4 linked regions of the Homo sapiens genome follow. The protein of the gene in region 2 purifies or fractionates together with the protein of the main gene of each other region. This does not show direct contact. Each region holds a gene or a part of one and is shown on either strand. Other genes may lie near its edges.

The links.
Region 1: the proteins of ITPR1 (region 2) and IRAG1 purify together in Homo sapiens (affinity purification with western blotting; 2 studies listed by BioGRID and IntAct, with this or other methods). This does not show direct contact.
Region 3: the proteins of ITPR1 (region 2) and ERLIN2 purify together in Homo sapiens (affinity purification with western blotting, with the first as the bait; 4 studies listed by BioGRID). This does not show direct contact.
Region 4: the proteins of ITPR1 (region 2) and RNF170 purify together in Homo sapiens (affinity purification with western blotting, with the first as the bait; 2 studies listed by BioGRID). This does not show direct contact.

The regions. Positions count from the first base shown.
Region 1 is NC_000011.10:10,627,741-10,634,770, forward strand, and holds part of IRAG1 (inositol 1,4,5-triphosphate receptor associated 1), read right to left. Parts: intron 6,332-7,030; coding exon 6,228-6,331; intron 4,322-6,227; coding exon 4,251-4,321; intron 1,972-4,250; coding exon 1,798-1,971; intron 1,089-1,797; coding exon 1,011-1,088; intron 286-1,010; coding exon 233-285; intron 24-232; coding exon of another isoform or gene 21-23; coding exon 1-20.
Region 2 is NC_000003.12:4,839,332-4,846,361, reverse strand, and holds part of ITPR1 (inositol 1,4,5-trisphosphate-gated calcium channel ITPR1), read right to left. Parts: intron 224-7,030; coding exon 137-223; 3' UTR 1-136. UniProt on the Homo sapiens protein: Inositol 1,4,5-trisphosphate-gated calcium channel that, upon inositol 1,4,5-trisphosphate binding, mediates calcium release from the endoplasmic reticulum (ER).
Region 3 is NC_000008.11:37,753,634-37,758,952, reverse strand, and holds the end of ERLIN2 (erlin-2), read right to left. Parts: intron 5,039-5,319; coding exon 4,838-5,038; 3' UTR 531-4,837; downstream 1-530. UniProt on the Homo sapiens protein: Component of the ERLIN1/ERLIN2 complex which mediates the endoplasmic reticulum-associated degradation (ERAD) of inositol 1,4,5-trisphosphate receptors (IP3Rs) such as ITPR1.
Region 4 is NC_000008.11:42,893,576-42,900,965, forward strand, and holds the start of RNF170 (E3 ubiquitin-protein ligase RNF170), read right to left. Parts: upstream 3,031-7,390; 5' UTR 2,909-3,030; exon of another isoform or gene 2,622-2,908; intron 1,533-2,621; exon of another isoform or gene 392-1,532; coding exon of another isoform or gene 378-391; intron 1-377. Other genes in the region: HOOK3 (protein Hook homolog 3), read left to right, coding at 3,557-3,613. UniProt on the Homo sapiens protein: E3 ubiquitin-protein ligase that plays an essential role in stimulus-induced inositol 1,4,5-trisphosphate receptor type 1 (ITPR1) ubiquitination and degradation via the endoplasmic reticulum-associated degradation (ERAD) pathway.

The sequences.
Region 1 (7,030 bases), on a different chromosome or scaffold from region 2:
ACGTCGGCCTCATCCCCCTTCTGCTGGAGAAGGTGAACAGGAGTCAGTCAGCAATGGGAAGAGACCGTGTTTCCTCTTGAAATATCCCCAAGGAGGCCCCCTAGCAGTGGTGTTCATGCCCTCCACCCAGCACCCTCATCTCCAGTGGGTCACGAAGGGCCTCCTGGTGTTCGGGGTAAGGGGAGAGACCCATTGGCATAGAAACAGCACAGCAGGTGGGGGGTCCTGTCACCTGTGGTGGTGCTCCAGGCAGAGGGGATGGCGGGCCACTGCACACATCCAAACCTGGAAGGGTCCAGACACTAGTGAGTGAGGCCCAGCAGCCCAGGCCCTCAGCTGTGCTTTCAGCCACATCTCCCTCCCCGGGCTATCCTCCCTTTGCAATCTCAGGCCTGGAAGATTTGCTGACTACCTCCCGTGTGCCAGGTTCTCAGGTGGGCCCTCACAGAATGTTCACAGAGACCACAGGAGGAAACTGAGGCACAGGGAAATCAAAGTCTCATGGCCAGGAAATGTCAGCACTGAGATTTGGGCCCAGGCTGCCTGGCCCCGACCTGAGCGTGCCCTGCCGCACTGATGAGGGCCGGTTGCCCTTCCTGGCACCCTCCCCCTTTCCTTGTTGGCTGGAGGGTGTGACTCTGGGTACAGCCTAATGAAAGGGAAGAAGTCAGACCCCAAAGAGGCCTTTCTGTATAAGCTCTTGAGGGCTTCTCTGAGCCTCCCTGAGCCAGAGAGGCTGTCCTAGTCCCCTTTCCCACCCAGCCTTCCTGACCCTGGGGTACACCTGCCTCCCGACACAAGCCCAAGATGCTAACAGAAAGTCTATCTGCCTCCTCTGGGTGGCCCAGCAAATGCCCCCCCTGGAGAGGGGTCTTGCTCTGGGTGTGAAGGGGCCATCAGAGTTCTTGAAGGGGAAGCCTGCAGGCTGGGAGGCATGCTGATCTGTCCAGGCTGAGCTGCCACCCAGAGCGAGAGGCAGGGCAGGAAGTCCCCGGGCAGCTGGGCCTCACCTGGCGGGGTGGGGACTGTAAGTGAGTTGCTCCGAGAGGATGTAGGAGAAGCGCTGGGGCTGAGGTTCGGGGAAACAGCTGTGAAGACAGACACAAATTGGCTGGCATTCATGAAGGTTTAGGACTTCAACCTGGCAAAGGCATCCTTTTAGGTATTCCCAGGCCCTGGGAACTGGGTCTGCCTTGCTGGGCTCAGGGGCTGATGCTGGACTGCAATATGATGCTCCTGTTACAGCCCAACCCCTCCCTGCTGCTGCTCAAGAGATGGGTGCCCTCAGGCCATTTGGGGGTTCGAGGATAGAGTCACACTTCTCAGCCTGCCTGGCCTGACCTCAAGGCACTGTCCAGAAACTGAGGCCTGGCGTTGGTTGGCAGGTACAGCTCCAGAGGCTGCTCCTTCTCGACTTCCCAGGGTGGCCCTGACTTCAAAAGCTCCCCTTGTCCTCCTAAGTACACTTACACACTTGCCCAACTTTTTGCTCAGGAAGAAAAGTGACTCTAGCATAGAGGAAGCAGGAGGATTTCTGGGCCCAGGAAAACCTTCCCTCTAACCCAGAAATTCCCCAAAGACCATCTCCTCTTCCCCAGAGGGCCTAGGATCCTTCCCAGCACCCACAGAGATCAAGGGAAGGGAGCCCAGGACAGAATCCTGACCTCTGCTGAGGAGAGCAGGTGAGTCCAAGGCGACCTCCTCGGAGGTGAGGCGCCCACTGCAGCTGGTGCCAGGCCCTTCCCTCCCGACCCTAGAGGGGCTCAGGGCAGCCACCTGTACATCCTGCCACCCTACCTGATGGGGAGTCTCCGGGGCTGCTCCTGGACTTCCTCCCACGGCGGGTCAGGAATCGCTCACTCACCAACTTGGCTTCTTCCAGCAGCGCCAGGTTTTTCTTCTTGTCCTCCTCTGAGATGCTGATGTCTGGCAGCTGGTCATTCACCAGGTCAATGATGTGCCCCGCGGGGTCTGCAGAAGGAGGATGAGCTGGGGTGAGAGCCACTGCATCCGTGGCCCCAGGCTGAGGTCATGCCATACCATGCCTCATCCCAGGGACTCTGCCCACAGCTGACCCAGCCAGCCAAACCTCAGCCCAGTGCCATCAAGAGGGTTGCATGGGGACAGACAGTGGCTTCCTCTGCAGGCCTGGCCCCTATGGCTTATGGCCTGTGGTCCTCCGTCACAAATGGTCCTGGAGCCATCTCAGGTTCCCAGAATTTTCCTAAACTCTGTCAGGAAGGGAAGGCCACCCAGGAGCCTTACCTCCGGCACCATCTGCGCCCCCAGTGCATTCTTGCTTCTGGCCTGTTTCTTTCACAAGCTAATGCGCTTAAGGTTTGTGAATAAAAGAAGGAGACCAAAGATCATTGGCCACGGCCACAACCCCGTGGCCACCTTCCCTCCAGTCACATTGTTCACCCCATTTTTCTCCAAAACTGCCCCTCTGGATGAGGTGGGTGAACGGCACCACCTCTCACCTGGCTGCTCAGGATCACAGGAGTCACTCCCCACTTCTCCCTCTTCCTCCCTCCCCCAACATCCAATCAGTTGATCAAGTCCTCCCTGCATTTACCTATAAACATCTCTGGAGCCTGTTCCTCATCTCCATTCTTGCTCATTAGCTCTTTTTTTTTTTTTTCTTTTTTTGAGACAGAGTCTCACTCTGTGGCCCAGGCTGGAGTGCAGTGGCACAATCTCGGCTCACTGCAACCTCTGCCTCCTGGGTTCAAGTGATTCTCCTGCCTCAGCCTCGCTCGTACTTGTTAGCTCTTTCCTGGACAATTATGTCTTCTACCTAAGAGGTCCCTGCCCTCAGGCGAGCTCCTCCATCCCATCCCCCACTGCCTATCAGAGTGGCTATCAGAGCCACATCTGGCCATGCCATTCTCCACCTCATCTCATGGGGATTTCTCATGCTCCTCAGTGTGGTATCCAAACCCTAAACTGGGCTCAGCCAGTCTTGCTGGCCCCCACATACTCCTCCCAAGTCCCTCCACTTCAGCTGTGTCTGCAGTGAACAGCTCCCATTTCACCTCCATCGGGTTCCATTCGTCTTTGGGCAGCAGATCCTTGGTTTTCACTTGGTAAAAACCTCTCTGATTCCCCATTAGCTAACCCCCCTCCCCTGTGCCAAGAGTGGGAATGTGGACTAGTCTTGGCCAATCAATGAACAGAATCCCCTTGGCCACAGGGATTGGCTCGGGGATGGCCATGTGAAGCCATTGAGGGGCAATCCTGGTGTGGAGTATATGGGGAAGAAGAACTCTCCACTGATGGGGCGTAAGCTTGGAGTTGCTGGTAGCTATTGGCTACCATGTGTTGAAGAGTCTGCCAAGAAGAAAGCTAACACACAAGAAAAAAGGTTCAAGAGATGGAATGGGACAATTGCTAATAACCCACTTTGAGCACCTGGATCCAGCACTACCTGAAATCACAAGCCCTGGCTTTTGTAAATTTTTTTTTGGTGTGAGGTAGTTTGAGTTGGGTTTCTATCATTTGAAAAAGTCCCAATTGGTACACATGGCAGAGTTTCAGTTGCCAGCAACATGCTCCAGGGAGGTTCCTGCTCTTTCAGTGTGTTTCCTATTCCCCCTGGAATGCCTTTCCTCCCTCGCCTATCTGTCCAGCTCTCTAAGGCACAACTCAAATGCCACCTCCTCTGGAATACCTTCCTAAAACTTCCTCTCCTCAGAGAGACTCGGTCCCCTTCTTGCCTTGGCTGGCCTAGCTCTTCTGTGCAGTCTCTTATCATACAGTGTCCCAATTATCTGTTCATTTCTCAGTCTCTTCATAGTCTATGAGCAGCATGAAGGCAGGGACCAACTCTATATGAGATCTATGTTCCAACAGCCCAGGGCAGATCGTGAGCCACCATCTGGGGATGAGCAGATGACCAGGGCAGCCGGCCTTACACTCAGGCACCTACTCCAACCTGGATGTGGGCCTCTTTAGCAGAGGCTGGAGGACTCTGCCCCCTAAACCCCAGAAATGAGTTTCACTCAGCTGTTCTTTCTTTCTTTGACTTCTGCATCTTCCTCTTCATGCCCTGGTCTTGTCTTTTGAGCAATGAAAACTGAATTAAATATGCTTCTCCTAGACCCAGACACGGAGGGGCTGATCTACCCTGTCCTGTTGGACTTATCGGGAGGGAGCGCCTTAAAGAGCAGGAGAGAGGAAGGAGTCAAGCCCAGCCACGCTGCCAGACCTGTCTTTCTACTCAACATGCCTTAGATTGCCCTGGTCCTTACCCACAGATGTCAGGGAGGCAGTGGACACCTTCAAGTGTCGGTGAGAAAGCCTCTTGTGGGGACTGTGAACTCTGAAAGACAGAACAGTCATCTTGTTCAGAAAATCAATCCACAACTTGAAAATAGGTGAAAAGATGCCTGTATATTCTTTTTCTTTTTCTTTCTTTCTTTCTTTGTTTCCTTCTTTCCTTCTTTCTTTCTTTTTTTTTTTTTTTGACTCAGTTTTACTCTGTCACCCAGGCTGGAGTGCAGTGGCGCAATCTCAGCTCACTGCAGCCTCTGCCTCCCAGGTTCAAGCAATTCTCCTGCCTCAGCCTCCCAAGTATCTGAGACTACAGGCATGTGCCACCACACCCAGCTAATTTTTGTATTTTTAGTGGAGATGGGGTTTCACCATGTCAGCCAGGCTGGTCTTGAACTCCTGACCTCAGGTGATCTGCCCGCCTTGGCCTCCCAAAGTGCTGGGATTACAGGTATGAGCCACTGTGCCCAGCCAGATGCCTGTATATTCTTTCAAAGTCATCCTAGAACATCATCTTACAAGCTTCTCGAGGGTTTCTCTGACTCTCAACTTGGGAACGTCTTAGAAATGCAAATTCTCAGGCCCCAACTCAGATCAGAAATTCTGGAGGTGGGCCCAGCCAGCTATGATTTTACAGCTCTCCAGGTGATTCTGACGCGTGCTAAAGTTTTCCAACCACTGCCCTAAGAGGATGTGACTTTGACTTACTATTTCCTACTCATTAGGTCCCAGACTCTGAGCTAACATCTAACTTGTAGAAGCCTCATAAAATGTAAATCATTGTTGTCTGACAAAGACGCAGATGATTTCTGTTTGGGAAAAAAGACAAAAATATGGTTTCATTGCCCTGTAGAACATTCACCTATTTTATATCTAACTTAGCAGTTTTATTCCAGCACTTTCCTCCCCACTGATGATATATGTATATCCATTGCTTGTATCCTCCTTTGAACCGGCTTTGTTATCCAGATGCTTCTTGTATTAATGAGGTAAGTAAATCTTTGACATATGCTCAGTATATTTATATGAGAATTATCTTTTTCCTTTTCTTTTTCTTTCTTTCTTTTTTTTTTTTTTTTTGAGACGGAGTCTCGCACTGTCGCCCAGGCTGGAGTGCAGTGGCGCGATCTGGGCTCACTGCAAGCTCCGCCTCCCGGGTTCACGCCATTCTCCTGCCTCAGCCTCCCGAGTAGCTGGGACTACAGGCGCCCGCCACCACACCCGGCTAATTTTTCTGTATTTGTAGTAGAGACGTGGTTTCACTGTGTTAGCCAGGATGGTCTCGATCTCCTGACCTCATGATTCACCCGCCTTGGCCTCCCAAAGTGCTAGGATTACAGGCATGAGCCACTGCGCCCGGCCGAGAATTATCTTTTTAACTTTTTGAAAATTAGACAGTCTCATTTCAGCGAGCCCAGTTCGTGGGCTAGTGCTCTGTGAAACCAAGGCGGAGACATTCCTCTACCTGTGAGCCCATGTCCCTGCCAAGAGATCATATTTCACACGTTTTGGCCAGGGGCAGGATTCTACATTCAAACACCTGCACCTTTCATGTTTGGCTGCAAATAGCTGGACAGTTATTATGGGAAACTCTCCTGCGGTGATTTATGCTTTTCTTAAAGGCTAGCCCTTTCCATGGGGGAACAAGTCCTTCTGGGGCCCCTGGGCATTAAATGTTTTAACCTCCACTAGCCCTGCTGGGGGAGGAGGCTGCAAATGGGCTGGAGCCGTCGCAGAGCCAAAAGGACCACATCCAGGAGAGGAAAAATCATTTTAGGAGGAAGATAATGGAAAAATTCCTATTTCTATCTTGTATTTTGAAAAACTGCTTGATTATAGTTTAGTCAATAAAATGATACAAGAAAAAAGAAAAGATTTATTTAAAAATATAGCTGTCTGATCCTCATGTTCTAGGAAATATTGTTTGTCACAATGCAAGGATCAGGCACCTGTACCTGTTGGCCAGGTTTTTGTCGGTTTCTCCTTCTGGTGAAGTGGCATCCCCAGTCAGGACAATCGTGGGAGTTGGACTGCAAGATACTCCTGCGGCAGGAGGACCCTGCCGGTTTAGAACAAAAACACAGAGTTAGGCTTGGGCTGGTGGGACTTCCAGGGACAGGAGCCAGAGCATTTATTCTCACATCATGATGCTCAGAGCCATCTTGATAAGGGGACAAATGCAGTTTACTCTTTATTCCCCCAGCTTTATTGAGGTATAGTTGACAAATAAACATTGTATATATTCAAGGCACACAATGCGATGTTTTCATTACCTTGATACAATGTTTTGATACAATGTGACATATTCACGGCATACAGTGTGATGTTTTGATGTGAAATGATTACCACAGTCAGGCTAACTAATATATCCACCAACTCACATAGTTACCTTTTTGTGTGGTGGACAATACTTAGCAAATTCCAAGTATACAATACATTATTAACTACAGTCACCGTGCTGTACGTTAGATCCCCAGAACGTATTCACCTCATAACCAAAATAGTAAGTTGAATTCTTTGACCAACATCTCCCCATTTCTCCCACCCCCAGTCACTGGCAACCACCATTCTACTCTCTGTTTCTGCAAGTTTGACCTTTTAAGATTCTACATATAAGTGAGATCATGCAGTATTGTCTTTCTGTGCCTGGCTTATTTCACTTAGCATAGTGTCCTGCAGGCTCACCCACATTGTTGCAAAAGGTGAGATTTCCTTCTTTTTTTAAGGATGAATAATATTCTTGTGTGTGTGTGTGTGT
Region 2 (7,030 bases):
ACATACAGTATAAAACTGAGTATTTACAAATGTATTCAGCATAAATGTAACCTTCGTGGGTGAATCAGAACTCATTAGCCATACCCACACTAATAATAATTATAAAAGGTAAATACAATTCCTTTCTTTCATTTGCTTATGCTGGTTGTTGTGGGTTGACATTCATGTGAGGAGGATGTCCTAGAAGACCAATTCTTTGTTTCTGCTTCCTTTGTTCTGTCATCTGGAAAGTTAAAAAGTTTCATCATTAGACCCAGATACTTCCTGTACGTCAAATCGCATACTGAACCATAGATTTACCTCTGTGGTTATGGTTTATACTGAAACCCACTTTCTACAAATAGTGTACCATCGCTATATCAAACACACAGCACTTCAAAAAAGGCATCTTCTTAGGCAGAATGGGAAATTCTGTGACCTAGTCATGCAATGTAACATTCAGAAGTATTGCTTGCCACTTGTTTCATAAAGAAACAAAAAACAATAAAAGCACAGGATTCTTTCTTGTTTCCCAAATGCACTTCCAAATGATTTGAAGACTCATTGGAAAATGGTGGCTTTGTACGATAGTAACAACACGCCATACTAACAAGAAAAGCAGTGTTTAGAATCCTAGGTTTGAGAGGGAGGGTTCGTGTCCACACTTTCAGTGGGTCCTGATTTTTCTCTTCAATGACTCTTGAGTAGTTGGTTAGAGAAAAAAAAAATTACCTACCATAACTAGGAAAATGAGAAATGTTCTCAAATCTCTTTGAGGTCCAGAATGATTAAATGCTGTAAATAATGCTGTGACCATTCACGGTATCTATTTCTTGCCACCCAGTAGACACTGAGGCTCGCTGAAGGTCAGGCGAGACCATTGCCTAAGACTAGTTCAAATGAAAAAGTACTTTCAAAATCCCAAACAAGAAGCCGATTCTATTCATTTGGTTGCTGAACTAAATATATTCTCATGTTGATGGGTCTCTAGACCTGTTCTAGGTATTTTAGGGCATACTTACTTCTGTCTCTGTATTAAGATTTTCCTTAACCCAGTTAGTCTTAGTTTTGGATTTTAGGGTGAGCATTCAAGTCAACTGAGATAAAAAGGCTATACGGAATATATATTCAAGAAAATTGTTGTCTGCAAGTGGGTTAAGGTCCTACTCCTATGTTTTTAGCTTCCTAAAATTGTAGAGGAATTAGGGTAAAAAGAATAAAGGCTTTGGAATCAGATCTAGTTTCTTATGGTTTTGTCATTTAACTTATCAAAGTCTGTTTTCTCATCCATACAATCAGGATGATAATTCCTAGCTGATTGGTGGAGAATTGCGAGGTTATACGCAAATTTATTAGCATAGCATCTGTCACATAGTAGATGTGACACTTAATCTCACTTTTCACATGAACTCATTTTTGGTACAAAATATCTGGAGAGAACATAAAACAAGACTAATTTACCTAGGTTCAATTTCAATGTGGTTATTTTTTCTTCTTCAAAACTAGCATTATCCTCTCAAATCAAAATACTATTTTTAGGCTCCTGTGGAGATGCTTTCTCTGTTATAATTTAGATGAGAAGACTTACAAGGACTTAGTATTTCCAAAAGGTAGCTTTTAATAAAGCTTTTAATTAAGAATTGGATTAGGAAATTCCAGCTAGCCCCTGAAGTTTCCTTAGGTGAGTGACATCTTTAAAGGAAGTGTTACACACTACACTGTATCCACAGATTCGGCTCAGGAAGGAGAACCTAATATGACACATGAAATAAATTCACAATTAGGTTAAAATGCCAGTAATTCATTCATCTTACTACCTGATAGTTCAGATGTTTAGCTCAGATTTTTCTCCCACAACCCTTCCCTTGGCAGGTAACCTTGAGAGGGAATCCAATACAACTTAGCTAAATTTGGATAATCTCAAGTGTTCAAATTGATTTAGAAATCTTGGTGTGCTCAGCCAGGTGCAGCGGGCTCACGCCTGTAATCCCACCACTTGGGGAGGCTGAGGTGGGCAGACTGCTTGAGCCCAGGAGTTCGAGACCAGCCTGGGCAACGTAGCAAAACCCCATCTCTACCAAAGGGGAAAAAAAATTAGCTAGGCATGGTAGCGTGCACCTGTAGTCCCAGCTACTTGAGAAGCTAAGAGTGGGAGGATCACTTGATCCTGGCAGGTGGAGGTTGCAGTGAACAGTGATGATGCCACTGCACTCCAGCCTGGGCAACTGAGATCTTGTCTTGGAAAAAAAAAAAAAAAAATCTTGGTCTGCTCAACCCTTATTGAAGGATACTTTACTCAAAGCTTATATTTAAAGCTGCTGAAATCTTTCAACTCAAAGTTGAATGTCAAAGTTGGCCATTAAGACTTTTTTCCCCTGTAATTTTGCTTTAAATAACTACTTGTATTTGAGATGACCTTTTAGTATGCGTATTTTCATCCCTGTTTGTTACATCAGCTCTCCTTGACTTTTCAATTTGTCAGTTAGTCTTTCTCTTCAACTTGAAGAAACCTCTGAAACTTTACAACAAAGGAGTCTTCAGTTGGTGGCCTGGCTTCCTTTTCACTTCCACAGCCGCGGCCTGATGCCTCCTCAGTTAGCAGCCCTATTCATCTGTCTTCATAAGTGATCCCATCGCCCACCCTCCCTCCGTCCCTATCCTTAAGGCTCCCCACTGATGTGGGTTATTGGCCAATTCTTTGCTCAGGTAGTCATATTCCTGATAATTTTAAGTACCAACTACACATCTAATGTTCTTTTCTGTTTCTCTAGAAGAATGGTTCTCAAACTTCAGCATGCGCCAGAATCACCCAGAACATTTGTTAAAACACAGATCAGAAACAGAGTTTCTGACTCAGTAGGTCTGGGGTAGGTCCCATGAATCTGCTTTTCTAACGATTTCCCAGATGATGTAGACGTTGCCGGTCTGGGGACTACACTTTGAGAACCACTGCTCTAGAAGAGGTTTTTCACTGATAATCTCCAAAATCGGACAAGATCATTTTGAGTATATACTTGAACACTTTTTTTAAAAAAAGTAATTTGTGTACATATATTATTTTTCTCAAATGAGGGAAGCTCTTGGAGAAGATTGTCTGCAACTGAGCATATAGTAGGCACACACATTTGACTGATACTCTTTTGATTAACCATGGCCTTTTAGACAGAATGGCTGTCATTTAAGTCAACATCACTGCCATTTAAGTGACTGCTAAAGGAGAAGGAATTGGGCAACTGCTAAAGTGTTTGGCCTTTTAGTAGCAGTCATCATCCAATTACAAGAGAACCAAAAAAAAAAAAAAAAAAAAACCCCTCAAAACCCTGAAGGACTAAATCTGACCTATAAGAAACTGAGGCCAACAATTCTGGACGCTTAGGTTTCTCCAGCCTCTTAGTGCATATTCTCACATAATTTCTGGTTTTATTAGTTCAATTCTTCTTATCTACTTACCTACCCCACCTACATACATTCACACGTACTATCTATATATCTTGTTATAAGGCATCATTATTGTCTGTTACTCTTACCTACATCAAAACAAATATAATGACCAAAGTCTATCCTTAGCATTTTTGTCAGATAATAGTCTCTCTGGACATCTGAAACAAAATTGACTCTTGAGTAAAAAAAATCTATGGTAACTGTATTCAAAATTCTAATATTGAAACATCTATTTTGAGTAGTGTGAGATGTCTCATTTATAGTACATTTAAAAATCCTCAAAACGGCTGGGCATGGTGGCTCACTCCGTAATACCAGCACTTTGGGAGGCAGATCACTTGAGGCCAGGAGTTCGAGACCGGCCTGGCCAACATGGTAAAACCCCATCTCTACTAAAAATACAAAAATTAGCCAGGCATGGTGGTACATGCCTGTAATCCTAGCTACTTGGGGGCCTGAAGCAGGAGAATCACTTAAACCTGGGAGGTGGAGGCTGCAGTGAGCTGAGATCGTGCCACTGCACTCCAGCCTGGGCAACACAGGGAGACTCCGTCTCAAAAACAAAACAAAGCAAAAAACCCAAACCAAACCTCAAAATTCCCATGTAGCTAAGGATAAACAGTTGTAGTAATGCTGTTCTTCACATCTATACAAATGTAGAAACTAGCTTGAATTTCAGCATTCCTCCTTTTGACTCATCTAAACAAGAAGCAAAGAATAGTGTAGCTTTACAAGTCAGATACAGCCAGACATCTGAAAGACTGTTCATGAAAACACGAGGCATACAGTAGAAATGGGCAAATTTTAATCTACCAGTATTGCCTCTAAATGATTAAAGGCTGGCACTGGAAGGAAAGTTCATTGACAGCACACAAATGCCACATTTCTGGTTTATAACACATCTTAATAGTCTTTGAAAAGCTGCTTTCATGTTACAGGAAGGTCTTGGTTACTCAGATTCTAAACAGCTAGCAAATTCTAGTAATCACAGTTATTTTCTACAGCCCTATAAAATCAGTCATGTTCAGAATGATGAGCCTCAAATACTGAGAAATGAAACCAAACCATCCCTTGAATACAAATATGTTGATTTACTATCAATGTATAGATACAATTCAGATTCTTAGAGTTGATCTCAAATGCTCTGTTTCTCTCTATTTCACCTGGCCAACTCTTACTCAGGCTTTGAAACCAAGCTCCTGAATTACCACCTCTGAGAAGACTTCTGTGGTAATTACTCTAATCCTCTCCCGAAGATCAGATTGAACAAATCACTCCCTTTTCTCCATTCCCAGAGCAATGTGTTCACAGCTCGGTTACACACTCACCAAGTTTAATTATAATTGATCTGTTTACTTGTTTCCCACTCTAGACTTTTAGTTCTTGAAGGCAGAGAAGAGGATCTATTCATCTTTGTAGCCCCAGTACCTAATGCCGCACCTGGCAAACAGGTGTTTCATATGTGTTGGCTGAAAGAAGGAACGGAATTAACCAGACCATACTGCCATTCCTTGAGCATGCCATGCATTTTCATGCCGTTGCTCATGCTGATTCCTTTCCTGGGAAGCCCCCTACTGCATTTCTCTGCCAGCTCAGAAGTCACCTGCTTGTAAGATTATAAAAGCTAAACTCCTTCTGCACTGCAAACTTCACACAGGACCACTACCTACCTACTTCTTTGTGCTCCATGAAACTATTCATGCCTCAAGTCATTCATACTGTATCAGATTGCTAGAGGTCTACTTCTTTGTCTTTCTTGCTAGATCCTGGATCTAGAGGGCAGATGTTGACTTAGTCTTCTTTTGTGGTCCCAGCACAGTATAAGGAACATAGATGCAGTACGGGTCGTTTAATATTCCATTTTCCAACTTTGGGCAGTTATTCTAATCTTGTGTTATGCCTTCTGTCCTTAAGCAGTTAATGTTAGCAAGATAACCCTCTTGTATGAAAAATGCCAAATGCTGTAACATGCTAATGTGATCTGAATTTTCAAGCACTTCTTGTATTCCTAGCAACAGCAAATAATGGTCGCTGTCCTATAGGAAGCCAGTCATATTTTCAAGAAAGTTAGCCCTTCTTAGTATTTGCTCTTTTGCATTATGAAGAAAACATGCAAAAGATTTTTAAGTTCTTACATTAGTTCTCCTCCTTGGAATAAGAATGTAAGAGAATCACATTTAGTGTTCAGAATCTCTTGGGAGGGGAAACTTCAAGATGAGAGGCATCGTTAAATAATACTTAGAATAGCAATCCTAACCAACCATTCTTGGCAATAATAGAAAAAGTGACACCACTAACCATAATTTTACTAATATCCTAACAAGAACTTTTTTCCCTCAGATTGATACATAACGAAACAATCAAAGAGGTAAATAACAGTAAAGATTTAGACCAAAGTCATCCACATTTAAGCTATCGTTGCTCGAGTCTGCTGGTTTTTGAATCAGAAAATCTAAAACAAACAACAACAACAACAAAACAAAAAAAACCTCTAAGTAATGGAGCAATTTTTGTGTTTTCTAGCACTTTTACTAGTGAATGGTATTCTTTCATAGCTGTTTTAAAAAATATCACAAGATTTCTTGGTCATTAATCATTCATGGAGCTTTTATTTTTTAATTCAAAATTTTTTCCCACAAAGGGCAAGAATTCTCACAATTACTATTTAAGAAAGAGCAGCTCTGTAACATATCTGCATTTTTTAATATCTTTTGCACATAAAGGGTTTTTAAACCTTTATGATTGCTATAACCAAACTTAATGAAATTCAAATCTATTCAACAAGTTGATTCTCAAATGCATTAAAGGTTTGTAGGACGTTACATAATCAAAAGAAAACACTGACTACTTCCTTTTAAAAGATGCAAATCCCCCTGCCCCCTCAAAAAAAAAAAAAAAAAAAAAAAAAAAAAGCAGCTATGCTGAATTTTTCCTGTAATTCTGAGTACCTTAAAACTTAAGTAGATCAATCCTGGTAAAAGCACTTGAGAATGTACTACTGGATTCTCATGCTTCTTTTTAACTTATAATATCTTCCAAGAAAAAAAACAGTTCAAATTCATTCACAGGGGAAGGGCTTTCTGAAGAGTGGTTCCAACTGCCAACTTCAAAATAAAAAATGCATAAAAGGCTGGAATCAAGCAGTTTAAACCATACTGGTTTTAATGTCACTTAATGAACCTTAGTCCATATGTAATCAAATTTTACATATTTTGTTTAAACTAAAACTTTGGCTTATCCAGAATAATCTTATCTTGGATTTTAGAAATGCCAAGTCTCTACTATGCTCACTTGTATAAAATGACAATGAATGTATCCTCCATACCATTTAAGTATATGATGCGACTTGACTTCTGAAACTTCAAGCTTTTTTTTAAAAAAAGAGTAAGAACTTAAACAGTCAACCATGAAAGGCAAACAGTACAGTGACATAACAAAGCAAATAAAAACACACACACACACCCCTGACTGGATGATCAGGAGCTCCTGCCCTGGCAATGCCTAAGAACCTTCTGGGCTCCTTTGGTATCCTCATCAAGAAAATAAGGGAATGAGGTGAGATGGCATCTGAAGTCTCGGATACTGTCCTATACCTCTATTCTTTTTTTTT
Region 3 (5,319 bases), on a different chromosome or scaffold from region 2:
TGGAGTGCAGTGGCGTGATTTTGGCTCACTGCATCCTCTACCTCCCAGGTTCAAGTGATTCTCCTGCCTTAGCCTCCCAAGTAGCTGGGATTTCAGGCATGCACCACCATGCCCGGTTAATTTTCTATTTTTAGTCGAGATGGGGTTTCTCTATGTTGGTCAGGCTGGTCTTGAACTCCCGACCTCAGGTGATCCACCCACCTCAGCCTCCCAAAGTGCTAGGATTACAGGTGTGAACCACCGTGCCTGGCTTCTTTTCTTTTCTTTTCTTTCTTTAAACCAGGTTATTTTCTACACAACATTTTTGTAGAGGTATGTATCCTCAATACTGTGTTTGCTGCATTGCAATGTCATTCCCTTCTTCTATGTGCTATCCCATTTGTAATCTTATTCCATTTTTTTTCACGTGTTTGGCTTTCTACTTAGTGGCTCCCATTTAATAGCTGTATGTTTTTTAGCCCGTTTCTCCAGATTGAAGTTTTTGAATACATACATGCAAGGTACAGTGTGAAAGCCCTTCGTATGCATTATTTCATATAAGCCATGCAACTCATTTTATTAATGAAGAAACTGAGGCTTAGAGAGGTCAAAAAACTTATTCAAGACCACACACCTAAGAAGTAGTAGAGCAGTGATTTGAACTTTGGCAGTCTAACTGCAGTAACTACACTCTTAACATAACTATTCAATTGTTAAGATCATATTATTTGTGTAGCAGGCTCTCAAACCAATAGAAAAAGCTTGGGATCCCTGTTAAAAAAAACCTGAGAAAGCCTGGGCTAGGGTTGCCGGACTTAACAAGTAAAAATACAGGATACCCAGTTAAATATGAATTACACATAAGCAACAAATACTTTGGTATGAGTATGTCTCATGCAGTGTTTAGGACACATAGTACTTAGACTAAAAATTGTACATTGTTGAAATTCATATTTAACTAGGTATCTTATGTTTTATCTGGCAACCCTAAGCTGGGCAGCTTTCCAGAGTAAAGACTGGGAGTTCGTCCACTGAACTGATATCAAAATGAATTTTGGTTCACTTGAAAATATCTTTGTCCTTTGGAGCAGAATTGCAGTGGTGTGTGAACTGTTTAAAATGATAAATCTCTATAGCACCTACCAAGAATTATGCCACGTTCACAAATTCTGTATCGATAATGGGGATAGATTTTCATCTGTTTATTTTTAGAGAGATCTTGTACTTAACTCACTAGTCTGGGATGTTTTATTTATGTCACCTAATATTAACTATTGCTAAATTTCACTTTAATAAAAAAGTAGATACAAAGACTCATTTTACTTAGCAAGACTGCAAATAAAACTAAGACATAAATTCACATGTTAGTATTGTCCAAAACAATTCCTCCAGCTATCAACCCACGGCAATCAATCCAGCAGTATCATTTATAGAATGATTACTAAAACAAGAATCATTTCTCAGTTACAAATGGGGTCATTAAGCCCTTGGGGCTCTTTGAAAGTAGAAGTAGTTTGCCTACTTAATCATCAGTCTACACAAAGGCAGAAATAAAAAGGAATGGAAATACAAACACAAAATGATTGGTTATTACCTGTTTTATAAGGAAACAAGAAAAAAAAAACAGTGGCTAGAAACAACAAAAAAGCAGTGGCTGGAACCCTACTGAATAGAGCTTAAAGAAGTACTGGTTACATTCACAGACACAGTAGCCACTAGCCAAGATATAGTTTATCTCCATCAAACTTAAATAGATAAAGTCAGTAAGTATGACCATCTTACTTTCACTATTTACGCTCTTTAAATAGTAAAGGTATCGGTTTGAAAGATACATAGAACCATAGGAACAGTGAATGATCATTTATAAAACAGCTCCTTTTCCTGAATCAATATATTGCTAAAATTCTTTCAGTAACCCTCCCTTTTTATATGATCACAGATCCCTCCACATCTATTTTATTTTAGTTATATAAAAATTATTAATAAACTTTGGTTTCCTTGCATTCGGTCCTTATATTTTAAAAAGTGATTAAAAACAGTACTGAATATGAATCACTTCTGCAAAGTTTAATGAGTGAGAAACATTCAACCAAGGTGATTTTTCCTTGGAAAACCCTACAAAAACTGAATTTTATAAACAGTTACTTATTTTGATAGATGTTCCATTTATAAATAGCAGCCATTACTTCACTGTCTACAAAATTGCAGGCTGTCACATTTTACATGTTTAGAATTCAAATGTTTTAAGATTAGATTTTCTAGTAAGAGTTAAAATAAAAACAAAGTTACACAGACAGGTTAGTTGTCCTATGCAAATAAAACAGCTGATTTTCATGATTTTGCTATTTAGACAGATAAGAGACAACCATTGGATTGACACTAATGTGTAGGATAACATATTTTTTGTTTAAAGAGGAAATGATAGAAACTTGGGGTGGGGCAGCTGCAGCAGGACTTGACTCTACTGAGGCTCTTCTGTGCTCATGGGACAAGCTATCGCAGGATGTTAGTACCGGAGAGGCCCTCAAGTTAAGACCTGAGCAAAGTGTGCTATTCAGAGAAGCTGAGCTATCCCTGCTCCCGGTTCTACTGTGGTGAATTGGTGTTTTCTGAGGTCTAGGCAACAAGAGCTCAGAGTAGAAGGAGTAGACATTTTCGGGAAGTGGGATGCTGGGCATGTCATGTTGCTCTAACAAGTGATTAATAGCACGGAAATGGGAGGAAGATGAATGTATTTTAAATGGATACTCCCTATGCTAGTCTTGGGAAATGACCTTCTTTTCTTGAGACGGAGCCTTGCTCTATTGCCCAAGCTAGAGTGGGATGGCATGATCTTGGCTCACTGCAACCTCTGCCTCCCGAGTTCAAGCAATTCTCCTGCCTCAGCCTCCCAAGTAGCTGGGATTACAGGTGCCTGACACCATGCCCGGCTAATATTTCTATTTTTCGTAGAGATGGGGTTTCGCATGTTGGCCAGGGTGGTCTCGAACTCCTAACCTCAGGTGATCCGCCTGCCTTGGCCTCCCAAAGTGCTGGGATTACAGGTGTGAGCCACCGCGCCCGGCCAAGGGAAATGACCACCTTCTGAAAGGACTCTGGAGCACATTAAAATCCATCACTCCCAGGCACATTTTGTTGCCTGCAAAAAGTGTGCCCAGGACCAGAAGTCCCAGGAGTCAGAACAGAGAAGGGCAACTTTGAAGTAAGGGGAGCTAACACTGTATCTTTCTAGGCAGGCTCAATGCTCCCAAAACTTCTGAGCAAGCTGGCCCAAGCTCTGGGACCATTCCTTAAACCAGAAGTCTGGGCATGGGCCCAAAAAGAAGGCAGGGATTGCTGCCAGAAAGGACCATTCACAGATTCACCTAGGGAAGATGGGTATAGGAGTTGGCGGGGGGGGGGGGTGGGGGGTGGGGGGTGGGGGTCAGCTCATAACAGGGCCAAGTCCTAAGCCAGAGGTGGTCATGGAGGGCACCAATATGCTTGCAAGTTAACTCCAGATAGCTGCCCTCCACTTAATTCTAGACACAACCCATGGGCTATACAGGTTGGACACCCCCTACCCCTCAATCTCAGGATATAAGAAAAACCTTTTGTTCAAATTTGCTCTCCCCATCCTGAATCTCCCAAGGTGACTCAAAATGTTCTGACCTAGTAATGAAAAAGAAAACCCTTTGAATGGATTTTGGCACAGCCATTCCAACCTGGGGACTTGGGCATGAACTCTGATTTGCTCCACACAGCTGTCTCTGGAGACTGAATGTTCAGCCTGACTTGCGTTGCTGCCTGCAGCCCTGGATTTAAAAACACAGGCTACTTAGTGAATAGAGTCCTTTTATCACTAAGTCAGACCCACTCCCAGCACAAGCCACAGGCATTAAGACCAGGACATCTCTTGACTGATCGTTCCTCCTCCTCCACACATGGTGTCAGACCTCTTCACTACAGAATCTCTACAATAATAGAAAGACACTTCATCTCGAGGTGCACACATAACCTGTCAGGCAGGTCCTGCAGTGGCTAAGAGATAACAAGGATCCCACTCCAGCAGCTGTTAAGACACTTGAGTTGTTTGTCCCTGTCTTCTTGATGCTGAGTGGAACCAATGAACAGAATTTTTGAGAAGAAAAAAAAAAAACAAATCACAGCATAGGTGAAAAGATGCCGAAATAATTGAGTTGTGGTGATCAAGCTCTGACTCTAGAAATGTAGTCAGAAACCACCACTCTGAGCCCTAGGGCAAGGAGCAAAGTGTATACAAAATCTTGCAAAACCTAGCACCAGTACTTCCTTATGAGGGCTCAAGAAAGCACACCTCTAAAATAACTCACACACATGCAGACAAGAATGCCAGGAAGGTCAAATGTTCTCTGCAGCTGTTTCTTCACAGCTCTACTGGCAAACTCACAGGCACATATTTGCTCAGTTGCTGAGCCTCACCCACAGACATCTCCTACCTTGGAGGCAGAGGTGAGAACACTGGACTGCATTTTCCCAAGTAAGGGAAATCAAATGAGTTGGAGGTAACACTCTACATTTCTCCCTCTCCTTAATGACAGCATCCCTAATTAAGCCAGCCTCAAAGGATAAAATTAGTGTCTAGAGGTCAAAGGTCAAGCCCATGATTTACAAATCTTATTGGAAGTCATATAAACTGCTTACCTGAAATAAAACCCCCCATCATCAGTCCCCACCCTCCTTTCCCTAGAAAGGGAGTGGATTTAAGTTCATTTCTTCTTTTTCACCACAGTAACTGGAAGACAGTCAGAGAAGGTAGTCGGGGAGGGAGGAACATTCTGATTCATCTTAAAAAATAAAGATCTGCTTAAGTATCATTTGCAGTCATATCAAGTTTTTTTCAATTCTCCTTAGTGGCCGTCTCCAAGGGTTCATCTTCTAAGCCAAAGCTTAGCTTGTCAGCTAGCCCCTCAAACTGCTTGCTCACACTGCCCGCAGAGTCCATGAACATGTTAGGAATGTCTTTGCCAAAGTAAATCTTGCTGTTGGAAGCAATGGCCTTGTACTTCATCAGCTGCAGATATTCAGGGGTTAGCTTCAGCTGTTAAAAAAAAAAAAAGTATGGAAGACTTATGTTGAACCATATTAGAGAAGGAGGGGAGTGGTGCCCCTTCAATTTTCCTATATTTATGCCCCTACCTACTTTTTGTGGTCTCATTGTTACATTTCTGTAAGAGACAGTCATCTCAGATCTTGGAGCATAGGTGCAAAAGTTAAAAGTTTCCATGTTTAACACAAAATTAAACTAAACTTCTATCAAGGCATGTCCAAGGAGAAGGAAAGTACCTGCACCACACAGCAAAGGCATCCTCAGTTCTGCCC
Region 4 (7,390 bases), on a different chromosome or scaffold from region 2:
TGCTTTGCCTTGTGAAGTTTATAATGAGATAATGAAGGTAAGGCATTTAGCATACTGCTTGGCACATCATATAGGCTCTCAGTAAATGGAAGCTACAGTGTTTGGTTAATATTATTAACAACCGCCAAGGAATCATGATAAAACTAGCCATGTTTTGATATGATAAAAACTAGCCATGCCTGCCCCAGAGCTGCTCCACATAGCATCTCAAACTCTCTTTAATCACAGCTCTAAGTATGTGTTCCCTGGGAAGACAGGATGCAATCTGGAGCACTGTCACACAGGACATGCCCTCTTTAATCTGATAAGCAGCTGTGGGTGAGAACTAGCCTCCAACTAACCGGAGTAACCAGACAGCTAAGACAAGTTCAACTCACCTCTCCTCAGGCATTTCCAAAGCTTTCAGGGAAGGAAAAAAAATAAAACACACAGAGAAAATAGAAAAATAGGAAATTCCGGGACTTCCTGGAACAAAGGAGAGAATCTCAGTGTCTTTTTACCCCAAGGCTTACGTAGAAACTCAGCAGCCACATGGCTTCTGCAATTACTCACATCCAAAAAGTTTTTACTAATTTCTTTCATCAAAGGTAACTGGAATTACAAAATGAAACCTCCAGAACAACGTAACATCATGCACAAAAGCACTGTGGATATGCAGCCAAGCTTGAAAAAGGAGACTTTAGGTCCATTGTGTCAAAGCCTTGAAAACCGGGGCCACTGGAGGAAGGGTGCTCAGGACGGCACAACCACAGTCGCTCCAGTAGGGCCAGCATCTTATCTGCCCATCTAAAGACAAGCTGCATGTGAGTCAGGAGTAAGTCAATGTGACATATACTCACTGACTTCATTCACTTGCCTACAAGATTATACGTCACTTAAAAGTGCTAGAGATTCGACAGAAATAACCTGATAAGGAATGTAGGAACTCTAGTTTGACAAATATCCAGAGGCACCAACACAGGAACCAAACACAGGCGAGACACACATGTGTAATTTTTTTTTTCTTTTGAGACAGATTCTCGTTCTGTCGTCAGGATGGAGTGCAGTGGCGCGATCTCGGCTCACTGCAACCTCAGCCTCCCGCGTTCAAGCGATTCTCCTGCCTCAGCCTCCCGAGTAGCTGGGACTACAGGAGCCCGCCACCACGCCCGGCTAATTTTTGTATTTTTAGTAGAGACGGGGTTTCACCATGTTGGCCAGGATCTCTTGACATCGTGATCCGCTCGCCTCGGCCTCCCAAAGTGCTGGGATTACAGGCGCGAGACACCGCGCCTGGCCACGTATGTGTAATTTCTAAAGGTTTCTCTGCCCTTGGTGTAGGGAAGAATGTTTGAAAAAAAGACCATTGAGAATACTTCAGGTAAGTTTTTTTTTTTTTACACTTACAAAATGCTAAATGATCAGGGGTCAACTATCAAGTGGTACTCTGTAAGGCAACCTTAAAAACTCACTGCTGACCCAGGCTCGGTGGCTCACACTTTTGATCCCAGCACTTTTGGGAGGCTAAGGCGGGCGGATCACTTGAGCCCAGGAATTTGAGACCAGCCTGGGCAACATAGCGAGACCCCCTCTCTACAAAAAATAAGAAAATTAGCTGAGCATCGTGGCCTGCACCTGTGGTTCCAGCTACTTGGGAGGCTGAGGTAGGAGGATCACTTGAGCCCAGGAGGCAGAGGTTGCAGTGAACCAAGATTGCGCCACTGCACTCCAGAACGAGACCCTTTCTCAAAAACCACCATCAACAACAACAAAAAACCCCACTCAATGCTGTCTTGGCAGTTTTCAGTGCTCAATGAGAAAACCTACTCTTAATGGAAAAAAAGTGGGGGAAAGGGGTTCCAGGAACTACAAAGCAAAGTGTGTCTTGGGAAGTTAGCTTTGTTGCACTCCAAATAAAAATTTGGCATTGGGTGGTAGTTATGCATACTCTACGCATCGACAATTCTCTAAGGACTCCAAAGTGCATGTCCTGGAAATTCCAACATATTTGCACTACGTTCCAGGTACACTAGAATGTTTATAGCCATGTTCTGAGTGGCCTCAGTCTGAACAAAATGCCCAACCAGAGTAGAATGGATTCACTGTTCTATTCACACTGGAATACTAGGCAACAATTAAAATTACCTATACATACACAGTACACCAATTTAATACTGATTGAAAACCACAAAACAACACACTGTGATCCACCCGCAAAAGTTCAAAAACAGGCAAAGGAAAACGACATCGCATGCACACATAGATGGTAAAGCTGTAAGGAAATGATCACACTAGTCAGGCTAGGAGACAATCAGGCTCCGAAAGGAGCACAGGGCATGGGTGAGAAACTCCTGGGGTGCCGGTAATGCCCTTTTCGTTTTTATCTGGGTGTTTTATTAATTCTTCTTTAAACGTGTATGTCGTATGCACTTTTCTGCGTATGCTATATCTGTTAAAAATTTATCGGCAGCCCAGCAGACAGATTCGTGCCTCTAAAGAGGTGGAAGCTCCAGAACGATCCGCCTCGCCATTAAGCGAAGGCAACTCCGAACGCTGAGAAACGCAGGCCCGGGGTCGGCCGGTGTCCTTACGGATTGGCGAGCGGGCGCACACCCCTCCTGCATTAAGGAGAGTTCTCAGGGTCACGCTCCGAGCGACCCTAGAGGGAGCGGCGGTGTCCTCGCCGCCGCCAAACCCACCTAGAGCCGCTCTCCGCGTCGGCCCCTCCACCGTCGCCGGCGACTCCGGACAGCCGCGGGGCGATTCTGGGGCTTCCAGACGAGGGAGGGGCCCGGGGGGAAGGAGGCGGCGACTCCCGCCGCCCCGCAGAGCCTCGGCGGCCAGAGCTACCCCAAGAAGGCCAGACCCCGCCGTCCGCGGCTCCGCGGGCCCCGATAGGGTGGGCGTGGCCGCCGCGCGCCGGACGTACCTCTCCACCGCGAAGGAACTACCTCGCCAGTTCCCGGCGACAGAGGACAGATTATTTCCAGGACCGCTCCCGCCACCCCTCCCGGGCAACCCACTAGACGTCCCCTTTCTAATTTGGAGTGCGGGTGCGGGCGCACGCGCACTGCCGAGCTTCCGCGAGGGCGCGACCGGACGGCGGAGGAGGACCCGTCGCCGCAGCCTCCAGGGCGGAGCGCGTGCTCGCCTCGACACGCAGCGAACTGGTGGCGGGGGCGCGCCCGGCGGCAGCGGCGGCGGCGGCGGCGGCGGCGGCGGCGCGGCGGCGCGGGTCGGCCGGGGCGCGAGCGTGCGCAGTGGCTCCTCGGCCTCGGCTCCAGCCAGGGCGGCGGCGCTGGGGAGGAGCGGTGTGGGCGGCCGGGGGCGGGGACGCGGGGCGGCGGGCGTGTCCGAAGTCGCGCGCGGCTGGCGCGCGGTCCCGAGTGAAAGGAGAAGGAGGGGCGCTGGGGGTGACGGTGCGGAGCCGCTGCCAGCGCTGGGCGAGAGTCGGCGGCCGGATCCGAGGAGCAGGCGGGCCTGAGGCCGAGTCAGCTGCGCGGGCCCCCGGATCCCCCGACAGAGCGGCGGCGGTGTCTGGCCAGGCGGTAGGCGCTGCCTGGCCGCGGCGGGGAAGATGTTCAGCGTAGAGTCGCTGGAGCGGGCGGAGCTGTGCGAGAGCCTCCTCACTTGGGTACGTGGGGGCCGCGGGCCGGCGGGAAGACCCCCTCCCCCCGCCACCTACCGGGACCCTCCACGCGCGGCCCGTGGGGCGAGCGCTGCGGGCGACGGTGCCGTCACATCCGGGGCCTGGGGCGGGCGGGGCGAGGAGGCTCGGCCCAGGGTCCGAGAGAGACTTGCCGGGCCTGAGGCGTCGCTGTTCCGGGCGGACCCCGGCCGGGGCTGGGCTGGGAACGCGGCGGGCGACTCTGGGATCCGTGCGGCTGCTCGCAGCTGGGGCTGCGCTGCGCTCTGGGGGTGGCCGAGCCTGACTGCCCCGCGTCCAGGACCCGCCGCCGCTCCTCGCCTTTGTTGCCGCGTTCGCGGAGGACGGGCCCGGCTCCGGCCCGGGAACTGAAAGGACCTGTGAGGGAGCGTGGGGAGAATGCGGGAGGCGCCCGGGGACCCCGTTTCGGATGCAAGGCACCGCTGGCGGTGGGAGTGCGCGAGGGGCGGACGCCTGTCAGAGGCGTCGGGCAGACGTTTAAAGGAGTCTGGAGGTGTCTGGGCGTCAACAATGGAACTCGAAGGCCTTGGGGGACAGAGTCGTGGGATTCTGATTTTGAATTCTTAAACGGTTTTAGATTCCTCATACTTTGAAGTAAATACATGTTCACCTCTCACGTCAGCTGCCGCGCCTTCCTGAAGCCGGGTCTTCAGGACGCGGCAGGGGAACCGACGCCCGGGTTCCAGTCGTTCTCGCCGCGGCGCGGCCGGGGAGGGGGAGGGATGCGCAGAGCCCGGGCGGACCCCGCGCTGCCTTCGGGAGCCTCCGTTTCACTCATTGCTGAGAATGTTAATTAAATGTTTACGGATGTGTTTATGAAGGCTACTACAGCATTTGTATTACTTTTAAAGGTAAAACACGAATGTGAGAGAAATTCTCTTTAGCGGTGTCTTGGGTTACGAGTCAGGATCCCTGGAGTGTAGACGTCACGATCCTGTGCAAGGCACTTTGCTGGAAAGGCTGGAGAAGTATTGCCTTACGTTGGTTGTTAAAAAAATTAATAAAAATAGTCTGAGGTTTTTATAGTTTGGCTACGTCACGAATCAATTTCTGTCCTCTGAAACAGACTTGGTAGAGCTTGAGTAGCCAGTTGCATATCAGACCATTTAGGGGATTTCAGATCGTTAGCAGTAGTATGTAGTTAGCGTGCAGCTTACCCTTCTGATGAGTTCTCCCTCCAGGCAAGGAGATGGCTTTCACTGCTGTATTTCAGAAAAGAGGAAGACTGGTAAGTTGTATAATGTGGCTGAGGTTTCTGACTAGGCAGGGGAGAGAGAGAGAGGAAAGAATTACTAAATTCTTTGATGTTGTGGAAGGAATAGATTTGGCAGAATCTGTACATCTGTAAACAGAATGCTGAGGAACTTAAGATTTAAGTTTTTGAGACTGTGCAAGTAGTGCTTCCCTTTATGCTAGAAGAAGCAGCCAGAAGGCAAAGATGAAGCTAATTGAATCTAAGTAGGGCTACATTGTTTAAAATCTAGGGAGAAAGAAGACATGGAAATAAAGAGGTGTACAGAGGCTCCTTAACTTGCGATGGGGTTACATCCCGGTAAACCCATCATAAGTTGAAAATACCGTAAGTTGAAAATGCATTTCATACGCCTAACCGTCCAAACGGTAGCTTAGCTTGGTCTACCTTAAACGTGCTCAGAACACTTACCTTAGCCTACAATTGGGCAAAATCATCTACCACAAAACGTGTTTTATAATAAATTGTTGAATATCTAATGCAATTTATTGAACACTGTACTGAAAATGAAAAATATAATGGTTGTATGGGCACTCAGAGTATGGTTTCTACTGAATGTGTATCTTGCATCATTGTAAAGTTGAAAAGTCTTAAGTTAAACCATCCTAAGTTGGGGACCGTCTGTATTTGAAGGGTATCCACAAAATATGGTAGGTAGTAATTGCATTTATTTAAGTGAGAAATGCTGATAAAAATATACAGGAGAAATCTTAGAAGTTTGAAGGCCTGCTGACAGAACCTGACAACATGAGAGAATCTATTTAGAATCTCCTAAAATGTCAAGAAAACGAGTAATCCACATTATCAGCTGTAGAGAGGTCAGGGAGTATAGTATTGTAGAATAGGCTTTTTGAAATGTCACTGGAAACTCATCAATGAGAATTTCTGGATAAGATTAGAGATTATCAGTGACAAAATTGGAGGGCAGTGTTCATGAAGATGTACAGTTCTAAAATTTGGAAACACTTTAAAAGACATGTTTCAAAATAGAGTTTAAATGCTGGGTTTGTTCTCTTTTAGCTGTCATTATAAAAAGCAGAATAAATGTTTCAATGAGCAATGTTTGATGACATTTAAATGTATAATATCACCCCTCCTATCTGTAAGCCAGATTAATGCTAAGCACAATTCTAAAACCAAATGCAAGCAAAAATGTACACATACACTCCAAAGAAAAGACTCATTTAGATTAGTTTTCTTGATTTTATGTCAGCTTCTAGTCAGTTTGGTTGTGTGGGGGGTTTTGCTCTCACACAGTAAGCTAGAAGGTGACTGACACTCAGCAAAATGCAGACAACTGTCAGTGACAGACAAGATCTAAGAGCTGAATGATTCCGTCTTTGGGATGACAGCCTTATGTACTTCTAGAGCCTCCCTGTTCAAGTTTTGAAGATCATAATTATATTCCTGAGTATCAGATAAAAGTTTGTTTTCACTACATAGCATTTAGTTTGAGATTGGAGAGATGTATATAGTACATTTTAGAAATTATTCCACTAGAAATGGCTAAAGTAATAAAAGCTCAAGTACTTAAAGGGATGATTCTGTCACCTATACAGAACTCAATGGAACGTCTCATTGCCTCATATGCTAGATAAATTGCCCTTTTATCAGACAGCCTACTAGCCCAAGAACCATATGTTCCAAATTTTTTCGAAAGAGAGAGTTACAAAAAGAGTTAAGTATCATCTTACCAAGGGGAAACATCTTAAGCTTAAATTCCAAATCAAAGTTTATGCAAACAAGTTCAGCAGGACATGCTTGAAAATTTCCACTGTGCCTCCTCTCTCCACCCTCTGAGTCAAAATTTGCCCTGCCAATTACACCTGTGAAGCCTAATTTCTTGAACTGTATGTGAATCTCGATGAAAAGATAGCACTTTTCCAGGTTTTAGAGACTGAAAAACGAAGTCTACAATGCTACCAAGTTATGACAAAAAAAGTCATCACATAGGCTCGGTACACTTTGGGATAACCTAGCAACATTAATATGTCCTTATTGTTTTCATATTACTTATTTGGCAGCCTATAAAATGCATACTAGTATATAGAATTGGGGGTGGTATAATTATTATGGTGGTATCTCCCCCATTCCATTCTCCTCTGCCTAACTCGATTCTGCCAACAATTTTTGTCCTCTAATGGAAGAATAAGTCACTGATGTACAAAAGTTAAAGTACTTAAAAAGATAGTATAGCATAAGAGTACATACAGGTTCTGACATTAGGCAGCCTGGGTTCAAATCCTAGTTTTGTTCTATACTAACTGATGTGACTTTGTAACTTCACCTCTGTGTTTTGATTGCATTGATATTTAACTTTATGTTTGCTAACTTCACCAGAGATTCTCATGCTTTAGTGTTGATCTGCATCATCTGGAGAGCTTGCTAAAACACAGATGCCCAGAGTTGCTAGTTCTGTAGGTCTGGGCTGGGCCTGAGATTTTGTATTTCTAATAGGTTCCCAGGTGATGCCATTGTTGGTGACATAGGGA